2 linked regions of the Homo sapiens genome follow. The protein of the gene in region 2 purifies or fractionates together with the protein of the main gene of each other region. This does not show direct contact. Each region holds a gene or a part of one and is shown on either strand. Other genes may lie near its edges.

Region 1 (5,062 bases), on a different chromosome or scaffold from region 2:
AATCATCACTCCTAGTTAATTCTCCACTACGTAGACAAACTGCTATTAATATTTACGATGGGAAATTTCATTATTTAAAAATTCTGCCCTAAATTTCCAGCTCACTCCATGAAGAACGCCTGCTGAACAGGTTGCAAATTAAGAACAATTATTTTTCTCTTCTGCATTTGAATACAACTTACAGCTAAAGTCATTTAAAGGGGTTAACATCAACCTTAATTAAATATTAAAGTGTGCCTGTACCTGCTGCTATTGTTGCCCCTTCGAATAAGATATAACCTATTTTTGACAAGTTTTCATCTTTCTCTGTGGAAGACGCTACATGAAACCAAATCAGTGGCAAAGAGGAGAGTAATGAATAATCTATTTCATATTCCAACAGTACCCAGAGCTCGGAGTGGAAAAATATTCAGTCAGATGATGGCAAGAGGCTGCTTGGGGTACCACATGACACAGCTAATGTTTAAATAATAATAATAAAAAAAAGCGATAAACAAATCATTAGCCCTTAACAGTTGTTTAATGCAATTTGTTAATGAACGTAATGGTGGGGACTAATAATGAAAGAAAATAAAAACGTCTAAACAGGCGCCAAGTTGCTGGCAATGCGCAATTATTTCCTTGTCAAGTTTTTATGATTTAATGAGCCCCTCTGGGACTGACGGCTGTCAGTCAGTCGTGACTTTTTGACACCATTACAACTTCAAATACAGCAGCAGGCAGGCTGTTTTCCTCGGATTTGAAATACTGAAATGATCTGACAGTTTTAAAGAAAAGATGTGCAAAAAAAAAGGAGAAAGAGAGGGAGAGAAAGACAGTTGCTTTTCCTTTCTTTCTTTTTTTTCCCCTCCCTTCTTCTATGGGTTGATAATCTCTGGATGCTGTTTGGTAATGAAAACCCAATCACTGAGGTCATTATCTGATGAGGTTTTTGGAACAGGCAGGCTTTTTTCCCCCTCTTTATTTCTTTACTTAATGATAACCCTCAATGGGCTTGCCCCGCATGGGATGGCCAGAGCCGCACAATTTTGTTCACCATTAATTTCAGCCTTTGAAGCTCAGGGCTCAGAAGCAGTAGCAAAGCAAACCCCCCACCAAGCTGGTTCCAAAATAAGACAATCCAGCCTGCCTTAAACAGAATAGCAAATGGCCTCCCAGCCCAGGCCCGGCAGCTGACGTCAGACCCACTGCATTTGCAGGCATTCGCCTTCAACACGGATCATTTAAAACTCTTTACAACTTAAGAGACTTTAATTAAATTGCTTTTGATTCTGGAGTGGGGTAGCATCCACTTTATTTATTCTGTCAGGGAAACTGTTTAGTCTGCATGAATTTTATATGGCAAGGGCTTCCTTCTCTTCTTCCTCCTCCATGCCTTCATCTTCCCCCCAACCACTCCCTTAAACATCATTTTTAACAAGGGCTCCCAACTTGAGAAATATTCGTCAAAGTCTACACACTAAGTACCTAGAACCTCTCACAGATCTACTTCACTATCTGCTTCAAGTCTGTGGACGTTATTCCTTTCCTGGTGGGGCAGGGAAGGAAGGAGAGCAATTGGCCTCTGCTGGGGATCCCCTAAGTCTTTTCTGCAGTGTCCAGGAGGACCAGGAAGGAGTTGAGGGAACCTTCTGACCAGCTTCCTCACAAAGCACTCACTAGCCTGGCCTAGGTAGTTGCTCTCAAGGAGGTTTGATGGAGCTGTTAGGCCAAGGGTTATCTGTTCATATTCTTCCCACTCCCAAGGTTGAATTGGGGTAAAATCACAGGCAAGAGCTGATAAAGACATAGAACTTGAACGAAAAAAGCTATTGAGAGGTGAGCAATGCCCTCCTCCTTTCTCATTTTGTCTGCTTCAACATGAACGCCAGGATTCAGTGAAATATTCAGGAGGCGGCCAGTTTAGATGATCCGATCAACCTTGCTTGCTAGGTGGCCTTGGGAAGAGTCTGCTGCATTGTGGACGGGATGGCCGTGCGAAGTGCAGCTGGTAACTGGTTATACACTTTAGCTAAGATCAACAGTTTTGAAGGAAGCCACCAGAGGGGCTGGTGTAATACTCGATGACTATTCGTGTGTCGGAATGAGAAAAGGGTTGTTTGTTTGTTTCCTTGCTTTTTAATGGTTCTTAGATGTGGTCAGCACGTACAGCATTCCGTTATCAGAATACAAGATTCTTGCTGAGACGGATCCCTTAAGCTGACAGGAAAATTAGCATAGCTTCCTGCTCCTTCTCTGTCCTGCTTCCCTCGGCCAAAATCCCACACCATCCCTCCGAAGTAAAGGCTGCAGCTTTATTTACACAATACTAAATGATTTATCCGAACACATGCAGGCCTTGGCCTGTTTCGATAAGTGCAATTTCTCTGGTGGATTCTGCCATTCTGCATTTCCTCTCTAAACCATAATGGTTTTCTTCTGAGTTGGGAAAAATATCAAGCACTACATCCAGGTGATATTGATCCACGGGCACAGGTGGTTAGCATTTTTGATGAAGAGAACAGGTTTGCTTTTCAAGGATTCAAAGCTTCTAATTATATTCCAAAGATAGTACGGACCAGTAAGTGCCTATGAAGTCTTGAGAAAAACATTCTGCTTTGTGACTGGGGGGAAACGACCTCAGCTTGGGCAACTTTTAAGCCTGATCACAAATGAGCTCATTTTGAACGCAATTCCTGGTTACCTCAGACAGAAAGAAATGAAAGAAAAAAATCACAAAGCATATTAGAAGTTTGAATACATAGTGAATTCAAGAAAGGCTTGCTAACATTTGTTAGTTAAAAACCCAAGCCATTCCTTTTGGAACAATCTGCCATCCTCTATTCTTTTAAAGGAGGTTAGGGAACGTTTTCCGTGAAGTTTATCTCTGGTGGACCCTCCTATAGGACTCTCCCATATTTATAATCACATTTGAAATTTCACACTGATGGAGTCATGTTCTTGCTCTTACTGAAATATTCATGGTCTCTTTACATACTGGAATGTATGTGGAGAGAACCTTGTCAGACCTTTTGCAAGTATGAGGACTGCTTTTGGCAGTGCAGATATTAAAACCGAAAGGATACAGAGATGCTTACACAGGTCAGGGAAGACGAGGTCACAATTAAATCCTGTACCAGGGCTCACTTTGCCAGCAGATTCTGGGGAGTATGGGATTTGGGGAAGGCAAGAAAATATTTCTTGTAGCCAGTAATCAAAGTTGTGAACAGTGAATACTGGGCAGGCTCAGCAAAAAAAATATCTTTGGGTTAAAAAAAAAATTATGCAATAGAAAAACAGGGAAAGTGCTAAGTCAATTTCCTGTACAACCGACATTAAATACCGACCTTTACAATGAAAGCACTCAGGCAGGTTGATGACTATATTCATGAGGCCTGTGTAGGAACAGGGCTGGCTTGCTGGACGGGGTCACTGACTCCATCCCCTGCTTTTTGCTGCATTTTTATCCTCAGACATCACAGAAGAGCTTTTCAGCAACAAGAGGCGGGTGACAAACAGAAGCTCTCGTGACTGACTCATCATGTCCTCTCCCAAACCACGGCCCTTGACACGTCCAGAGGGCTAGGAGTGTCACTGGGGCTATTTTGGCTAGTTGATGACATTAGCAAAAAGGTAAATAAACATTCACCTTCCCCTCTAAAAAACGAATCTGGGTGAAGACAAACCTCGAAAAGGAAACCAACCCACATGCAAACAGGAATAGAAAATATTTTTACACTCTTTGCACTTCAGCCCAACGGCGGTGAGGGAGAGAGAGGGTCACCTGGGGCCTGTCAGCGCAACAGAATGATTCATGTGACCATTTTGTCTTAATTACTCAGAACAAGCTGTTGTTGCTGTTTATCAAGGGAGAGCAGATACATCAGTGTCTTCTGACAGAAAAAGTGATCGCCATCAGGATGGTGATGACCACGATGATCCCTAGGATGACGAGCAGGATGCGGTTCTGGATGATTCTAGGAGACAGCAAAGGAGAAAAAACACACACAGATAAGTGGAAGGCCTTCCCACAAACGCCGTCCGAGGCCAGGTTGGCTAATCAAACGGCAGCTTTGCAGGTGGGGGTGGGGAGCGTGTGTGTGTGTGTGTGTGTGTGTGTGTGTGTGCGCGCGCGAAAGAGACATCACGCAGCTTTCTGGTTCTACAAACGATCCACGAGGAAACGAAAGGCTCCACATGATTGTCACGCTGCCCTCCGAGAAATGCTTACTGCAAAGCTAAGGCGAATCAAATGGCTTTCGAGGCTCAGAAAATCATGTAGCCTCTTTAAGTGATCAAGGGCCCCTTGCGAGCTTCTCTTTCTAATTTAAAAGGCGAGACAAGCCTCATTTTTTGCAGTGTTTCCTGTTAAAGTAAAATACTCCAAGGAAACACATGTCAGCAATGTACTTACCTGCACAAAAATACCTGGGGAAAAGTAAAACAGAGACTAAGGAAGAAAAGGATGGGATTAAGAAACAAGTGTCAAATGTGCAGCTTAGGCTGTGAAACCATCATCTGTCAGTGTGGCTCACGCTCCGTTACGCTAGGAGGAAACGTTACATTTGCTCCATAGCAAAAAAGATGGAAATGAGAAATATACAATGTACTCAAGGTGCCTGTTGTGCGTCTGTTGCTGGGCCTTTACCTCCAGGGATTCTACCTCCCTGGGTTCTGGCTGGGCTGCACGCTGATGGGGAACCAGCAACTTAGAAGGGGGACCAGAGTGGAGACACACGCTCCCAGATGCCTGCAGAGAGCTTCTGATGAGGTTGTTTCATAATTTGTTACCTCATTCGGAGAAAAGAGGTCGAACATCAGAATGCTTTGTTGAGAGTTTCAAAGGGAACCTAGGTCAAACAGCCGTGCCCACGCTCGCTCTCACAGAGCTGCACGGAAATAGAGACATGAGCTGGCTGGCAGTCTAGCCAGCTATCTGTCCAGCTTAAAACCCCACGGCAAACCCCATCCAACCCTCCTCCAAATACCAAGCAGCAAAAGGCCTGCTGCCCTACTCCAGTCACCAAACACTGGACATGGGTCTTCCATGGGGAGGAGCTGGGGAGATGAAGCTGGGCTCCCC
Region 2 (7,032 bases):
TCAAATCCAATTTGTGGATATAGCTATACTGCCAAACAGCTTAAACACTAATTTAACAGCTAAGGGCTAAAAAAATTTCCACCAGTGTTCTGGTTTTGCAAAGTTGTGTTCTTGCCACATTTCCTTTGATATTTTCTATTATTATAGCAACAATAAAACCTAGAATTTCTATTATGATGAGACAAATAATAATAAATACCACTATAATCAAGGACTCTTTTCAATATGATAATACAGGGCCAAGAAAGTGGCTAGAGCTGATAGTGTGGCCAAGTGAATACAGAGCCAGAATGTTTTAAAGGGTTGTTTATGAACTTCAAAAATCTAAATTTTGTATAGCATCAATTAAGTTTATTCTCTGGTTTAAATTTTCCAACTATAAATATTGGCATATCAACTAGAAGAGATGCCTATAGAATTTACCAAACATCTATTGAACACCTATTATTTGTAAATCACTGTGTTAAACATTGTGAAAACCCCAAAGATTAACAAAACATAATACTTACTTCAAGATTACAATACCTAATACAATAACTAATAGGAAGGATAGATATGTAACTAACTACTGTCTCAATATCCAGAGGTAACGACTATTAACAACTTCTTGATTATTCTTTCAGAAATAATTACTGTAGGCAGGGCATGGTGGCTCATGCCAGTAATCCAAGCACTTTGGGAGGCTGAGGCAGGCAGATTGCTTGAGCTCAGGAGTTTGAGACAAGCCTAGGCAACATAGCAAAACCTTGTCTCTATAAAAATGCAAAAATTAGCTAGGTACTGTGGCATGTGCCTGTAGCCCCAGCTACTTAGGAGAATGAGGTGGGATGGCTTAAGCCCAAAAGGTGGAGGCTGCAGTGAGCTGAAATCACGCCACCACTCTCCAGTCTGGGCTACAGAGCCAGACCCTGTCTCAAAAAAACAAACAAACAAACAAAAAGAGTTACTGTATTTATACATATATGTGCTTGTGAAAATATATTATATATATAATATACATACATATGTATAGTCAAGCACATATTTATATACATGTACACTTTTTTTGTTTTGTTTTGTTTTGTTTTGAGACGGAGCCTTGCTCTATCACCCAGGCTGGTGTGTAATGGCATAATCTCGGCTCACTGCAACCTCCACCTCCCTGGTTCAAGCGATTCTCCTGACTCAGCCTCCTGAGTAGCTGGGACTACAGGTGCATGCCACCACGCCTGGCTAATTTTTGCATTTTTAGTAGAGACAGGGTTTCACCATGTTGGCCAGGCTGGTCTCAAACTCCTGACCTCAAAGAATCTGCCCGCTCGGCCTCCCAAAGTGCTGGGATTATAGGCATAAACCACTGCACCCAGGATTATACAGTTTTTTTACCTGAAAGAAATGTTATGGCTGGGCACAGTGGCTCATGCCTGCAATCCCAGCACTTTGGGAGGCCGAGGCGGGCGGATCACGAGGTGAGGCGGGCGGATCACGAGGTCAGGAGTTCGAGACCAGCCTGACCAACATGGTGAGACCCCATCTCTACTAAAAATACAAAAATTAGCCAGGCATGGTGGCATGCACCTGTAATCCCAGCTACTCAGGAGGCTGAGGCAGGAGAATCTTGAACCCAGGAGGCGGGGATTGCAGTGAGCCGAGATGGCACCACTGCACTCCAGCCTGGGTGACAGAGCAAGACTCTGTCTCAAAAAAAAAAAAAAAGAAAGAAATGTTACAACATCCTGCTTTTCTATCTAATATATCTTAAAAAGCTTTGCATATCACCCGTGAGGAGTTATGTCATTTAAAAAAAAAAGAATACGTAATATTGTACTGTAGTTTAGGTAACCAGCCCTCTATTAATAGATATTTAGCTTGTTCCTAGTTTTTTTGCTATTACTTCAGTGAACATCCTGGCTTAAGTATCTTTGTGTACTTGCACAGGAATATCTATACAGTAAGCTTTTAGAAGTAGAATTGGTAAATAAGAGTATTTTCAAGTCCTTTGCAGTATTCCTTCTGTTAGGCATGGCCAGGAGGTGGTATAGGTATGTTCTGTGACACCCACTGTAGTTTTGTAACCATTTCTTTGCCTTCTTCCTTCAAAATTTCCACTATCTTAGAAGCTCATAATGTAGCTGCACCGTTTTCTCCTGACCTCCTTTCCTGGTCACTTTTATTCCATGAAGACTTTAGCTCTGGCTTATTTGTCCTCCTTTTTCTCCTTCTCTTTTCAAGATTGTCAGTGACTTTAACATCACTGTGGATTACTCATCTAACATCCTGGTCTCCTTACCAATCCTGATCTTTTCTTTTACCCACTACAACCACCCACATCCATGCTTACAATCTAAACTTCTTCGTTACAAGTATCTGAACCCCCTATGAAATCTTGAATTCAAAATATCTTTATCCAATAACTACCTCTCAACTTCCAATTTACCTGTACTAATACTCTTCTGTAATAATTCTTTGGCCTCATCAAATCTCCAATTCATTCACCAATACCTTTGTCATGATCCAATACACTCTCCTCTTGTTTCCATTTCCCCAACTAGTTGCCTTTTCCATGTTTAATCTGGAGCAGTTCAACATTTCCAGAGGTTTTAATATTACTAATGTTTTTGTCAACTCTCAATATGTGACATTTCTACTTGTTATCTAATAGACATCTCCAACTGAACAACAAAACTCTGTTTCTCCTCAAAGCCTGAGAGTTATTCTTGACTTCTCTCTTACCCTTGTTCCATAAATCTGTGCCATTAAATATGACTATTGATTCTGGCTTCTCTCTCAGCCTCCTACCCAAACCACTTCCATTTCTCACCTGGACTACTGCATTCATCTCCTCAGTAGTCTCTCTGCTTCTATTTTTGCCTTCAATAATCCATTCTTACCACAAATATCTTTTAAAACACAATTAAGTTCATGTTACTCATATGCTTAACTCTTCAATGGCTTCCTATGACATTAAAAAAAAATCTCTTTACTAGGGTCTTCGAGAACCGATGTGATCCAACCCTACCTATCTTTCAACCTCTTATTTCCTCCTTATTCACTATGCTCCAGCCAAGCAGGGCTCCCTTCTGTTCCATTAACTTGCCAAATTCTCTCTTTCTTCAAGACCTTTGCTCTGGTGTTTCCCTCTGCTTTGGATGCTTTCTCTCCTAATCATAGTGTGATTGCTTTTTTTTTTTTGAGATGGGGTCTCACTCTGTTGCCCAGGCTCGAGTGCAACGGTGCAAATTTCAGCTCACTGCAACCTCCGCCTCCCAGGTTCAAGCGATTCTTCTACCTCAGCCTCCTGAGTAGCTGGGATTACAGGCGCCTGCTACCCACGCCAGGCTAATTTTTGTAGTTTTAGTAGAGACAGGGTTTTGCCATGTTGGCCAGCCTGGTTCAAACTACTGACCTCAGGTGATCCTCCCGCTTTGGCCGCCCAAAGTGTTGGGATTACAGGCGTGAGCCACCGTGTCTGGTCTGGTTCTTTCTTATGACTCAAAGCTCATCTTAAATATCACCTCTCAGAGAGGTTCTCTCTCCATCTAAAGTAGTCCTCCCCACCCCTACAATTACTTTGAAGCTCATCACCCTATTTATTTCCTGGATAGCACTTATTAAAATTATATTCTTCATTTGTTTACTTGTTTACTCATTGTCTCTATGTAAGTTCTTTGAGGGCGGGTACCTTGTCTTTCCTGTCACTTCTATATCGCCAGCATCTACAACAGCTCTTAACATACTGAAAGCATTCAATCAACATCTGTTGTGTAAAAGGACAAAGCAACTGAATTATTAACTATATGCATACTTAGGTTATAGTGACAAATGGTAACAGATGTTGACAACTGATAAATGTGCATTTTGTTCAAGGAATATAATTTTGAGCTTTGTGTGGGAATGAATTATGTAAATTAGAAAGGTTTCCTGCTGTGTACTGATCATATACAGTATATTCTTCCGGTGGCCTGTGGTTTCCCTTTGGTAATAAATAATTCCTTGTTCAGTAATTCTTATAAAAATTCATAAGCAAATAAATGTTTTTATTTATCACATTAATGCAAAAGCTCAAGAATAGTTGTTTTTTAAAAAGCCTCTCAGATAGGTGCATAACTTTGGGCTGGCGTTCATTCTTCCCACTTAGCTGACATTTCTGAATCTTGATCCCAAGGTCTTTAAACATTTTATCTGAATGAGTGTACTCTCTGAATTTAACACCAAATGTTCTGCATCTCAACCTTGGACTTTTAAAAGATGATTTTTTTTTCTGTTCTGTACCAAATTACAGAAAAAAATTTTTTAAAGGACAAAGTGAAAAAATACACTTTATCACATAAAAGAATCACCTATGTATCTCAAAACATTTTTCTCATTCAGAATCTCATTATGTTTATAAAACACTATACTTCCAAGGCTCTTAGATGTTTATTAACTGAAATAATAGAAGAATTATGTCAACAGTAAAATTTTCACATTAATCTATCCAATAGGATTCAAGTATATATGTTAGCCCCTTAGATAACATGTGTTCCAACAAAAAAAATATATAATTTTTAACTAGGTAGAATTTATGTATACAGTATTTAAAATTTCAGGTTGGCCTAAATAAGTTGTTCTGGACAAGTTTTGTTTTTATTAAAAATTAACCACTGGATTAAGATGACAATTATTGCTTCCTTTAGTTAATACTCAAAAAGAAAGCCATCCTTTGCTCCTGTGTAACAAATGGCCTTTATTAATTAGGTCTCTCAGTTTGTGTGCTGGCAACATTTGGCAAAGTCCAGTCCTCACCAAAAATAGTAACAACCTGCTCTGGATGGCAATCAAGCAGCAAGCCTATTTTTGGCCTCAATGTTTGAAACACCAAATGCCAGATGCCATCGAACAGAACCTTAAATGGCATAAGTAAACTGGTCTGATACTGAAATACAGAAGGATTTGAGGCTCTCCAAAACACTTGTTTCTTTAGTACAAAAGAAATAAATGTTTCAGACTTAGCAGGGGAATTCATATCTAATGCTGACATATGTAAAACCAAAAGAATCTTAACAGAAGAAAGGAGCAGCAGAATGCTATAACCTCAGCTTTAGTCCTTAACATTACTCTAAATTTTCTGTTTGTTCAGTATTTCTGGCTTTTATTATTAATATCTTTGTTAGCTTACCTGTCTCTGAGTGTGCTGGGGCCTAAATAAGGATATAGGTTTTCCTTAAGCCTTCCTTTGATGAGATGATCCAGGGTTTCATGTAGGAAAGGTTGATGCTGTGTATATACATTTTCTACTCCCTAAAACAGGGGAAAATGGTTCTTATGTCATTTTTGGGAAATTGGCAACACAAGAATTAATAATATTCATATCAGAAAAGGACATACACTCAATAGAGATTTCATGGGATAGATTTACGTAACTGTGGGAAATTTAAAAATTATTTTAATCAGCTAGAAATGTTCTAATCTCATAAAAATTACTCTGTAATTTAGGGCTAGTTATTGTAAAGGATTTTTTAAAAATGGAATTGCTTAAATCCTTAATCATGTCTTCACTGTCTCTCACCCTTTTGTGAAATGTTAAATGATAGGTAGAGCAAATAAAAGGAAAGGATTATGTATAAAAAAGACTGAAAATACCCAGGAAAATAGAAAAACTTCAGGAAACATAAGAAAGGCTGCCGGGCGCGGTGGCTCACGCCTGTAATCCCAGCACTTTGGGAGGCCGAGGCGGGCAGATCACAAGGTCAGGAGTTCGAGACCATCCTGGCTAACACGGTGAAACCCCATCTCTACTAAAAATACAAAAAAAAATTAGCCGGGTGTAGGTGGTGTATGCCTGTAGTCCCAGCTACTCGAGAGGCTGAGGCAGGAGAATGGCGTAAAACCCGGGAGGCAGAGCTTGCAGTGAGCCGAGATCACGCCACTGCACTCCAGCCTGGGAGACAGAGCGAGACTCCGTCTCAAAAAAAAAAAAAAAAAAAAAAGAAAGGCTAGCAGATTAGAATTAATTTTTGAGTATTTTAAGAAAACAGGTTAGTATTTTTAAAAGATCAAAAGTTTGCTTCATCTTTAATTTCCTTCAAAGAGAAACTACCTAAAAAATCTTTAATTATAAACAAATGGTGTAAAATATCTGTGACTAACAGAACTGTTGGTCTTTTTCTTCTTATTTCCTGGAAATACCTCCAGTTATTTCCTGCTAAGCTATTTGGTCCAATGTTGATACGGCTCTAAGACAGAAAGCACTAAAAGAAAAAGCTTTCAAGAGGATGCCAGTTTTAATTTCATTTAACTGACACAGTACTAAATTAGCAGCAATCTTCAAGATACTTTGAAGATCATATTCATTCACTCTCAGCCTCAAGGACTTCAACTGTTCTCACTCAGGAGAGCATAGAGGAGATGTCTATACCTTCAGTCCTTTGAGGAATTGTTTGGTGATAGCCACAGCATCTTTGGGGCTGAAGAGGTCACTTCCTCTGACTCGTTTACCACCATATTCAACAACTGCAGACACGAGCTATTAAGAAAGAGAAGCAAATTTTGATTGCTTAGGCATCAGGAAGCCCATTTCATAAGAAAATAATTTTATTAAGGAAACAAAAATGAAAAGACAGAATTATACATTTCTGTAAATAAAAATAGTATGATTTATCATTCGTTAGAGCTAAGAATATAATAACAGAGTTGGTTCCTGTTTGGTGGGCTAATATGGAAACTGGTTACCTTTCGATACTTCTCAGAAACACCTTTATTCCTGAGGTCCATCATTAGTCCTGGCAGGCTATTGCTGCTGTGTCGCTCATAATGTAAAGCATAAAGCATCACCAGGCGGGCAGCATCAAACTCTGTCACTTTGGGGTTCTGCAGAAGCCTTTTTATATTCTGAAGAAAGATAGAACTTATATTTATCCCCCTTTCACTTGAGTCATCTGTTGTACAATGCCTTAGATCTAATAATTATTGAATGGTAGTGATACATCACTACTATGACAATTATAAGTCATACATTTAGCAACTGTCTCAACTATAGAAAATTAAATGCCTTTTGTCCAAGGTAAGAATTAA

Evidence for each region. The genes of interacting proteins can lie anywhere in the genome.
Region 1: the proteins of VPS45 (region 2) and VTI1A purify together in Homo sapiens (affinity purification with mass spectrometry; 2 studies listed by BioGRID and IntAct, with this or other methods). This does not show direct contact.

The regions. Positions count from the first base shown.
Region 1 is NC_000010.11:112,814,184-112,819,245, reverse strand, and holds the end of VTI1A (vesicle transport through interaction with t-SNAREs homolog 1A), read right to left. Parts: intron 3,957-5,062; coding exon 3,863-3,956; 3' UTR 502-3,862; downstream 1-501. UniProt on the Homo sapiens protein: V-SNARE that mediates vesicle transport pathways through interactions with t-SNAREs on the target membrane. These interactions are proposed to mediate aspects of the specificity of vesicle trafficking and to promote fusion of the lipid bilayers.
Region 2 is NC_000001.11:150,091,754-150,098,785, reverse strand, and holds part of VPS45 (vacuolar protein sorting-associated protein 45), read right to left. Parts: intron 6,850-7,032; coding exon 6,691-6,849; intron 6,485-6,690; coding exon 6,377-6,484; intron 5,260-6,376; coding exon 5,138-5,259; intron 1-5,137. UniProt on the Homo sapiens protein: May play a role in vesicle-mediated protein trafficking from the Golgi stack through the trans-Golgi network.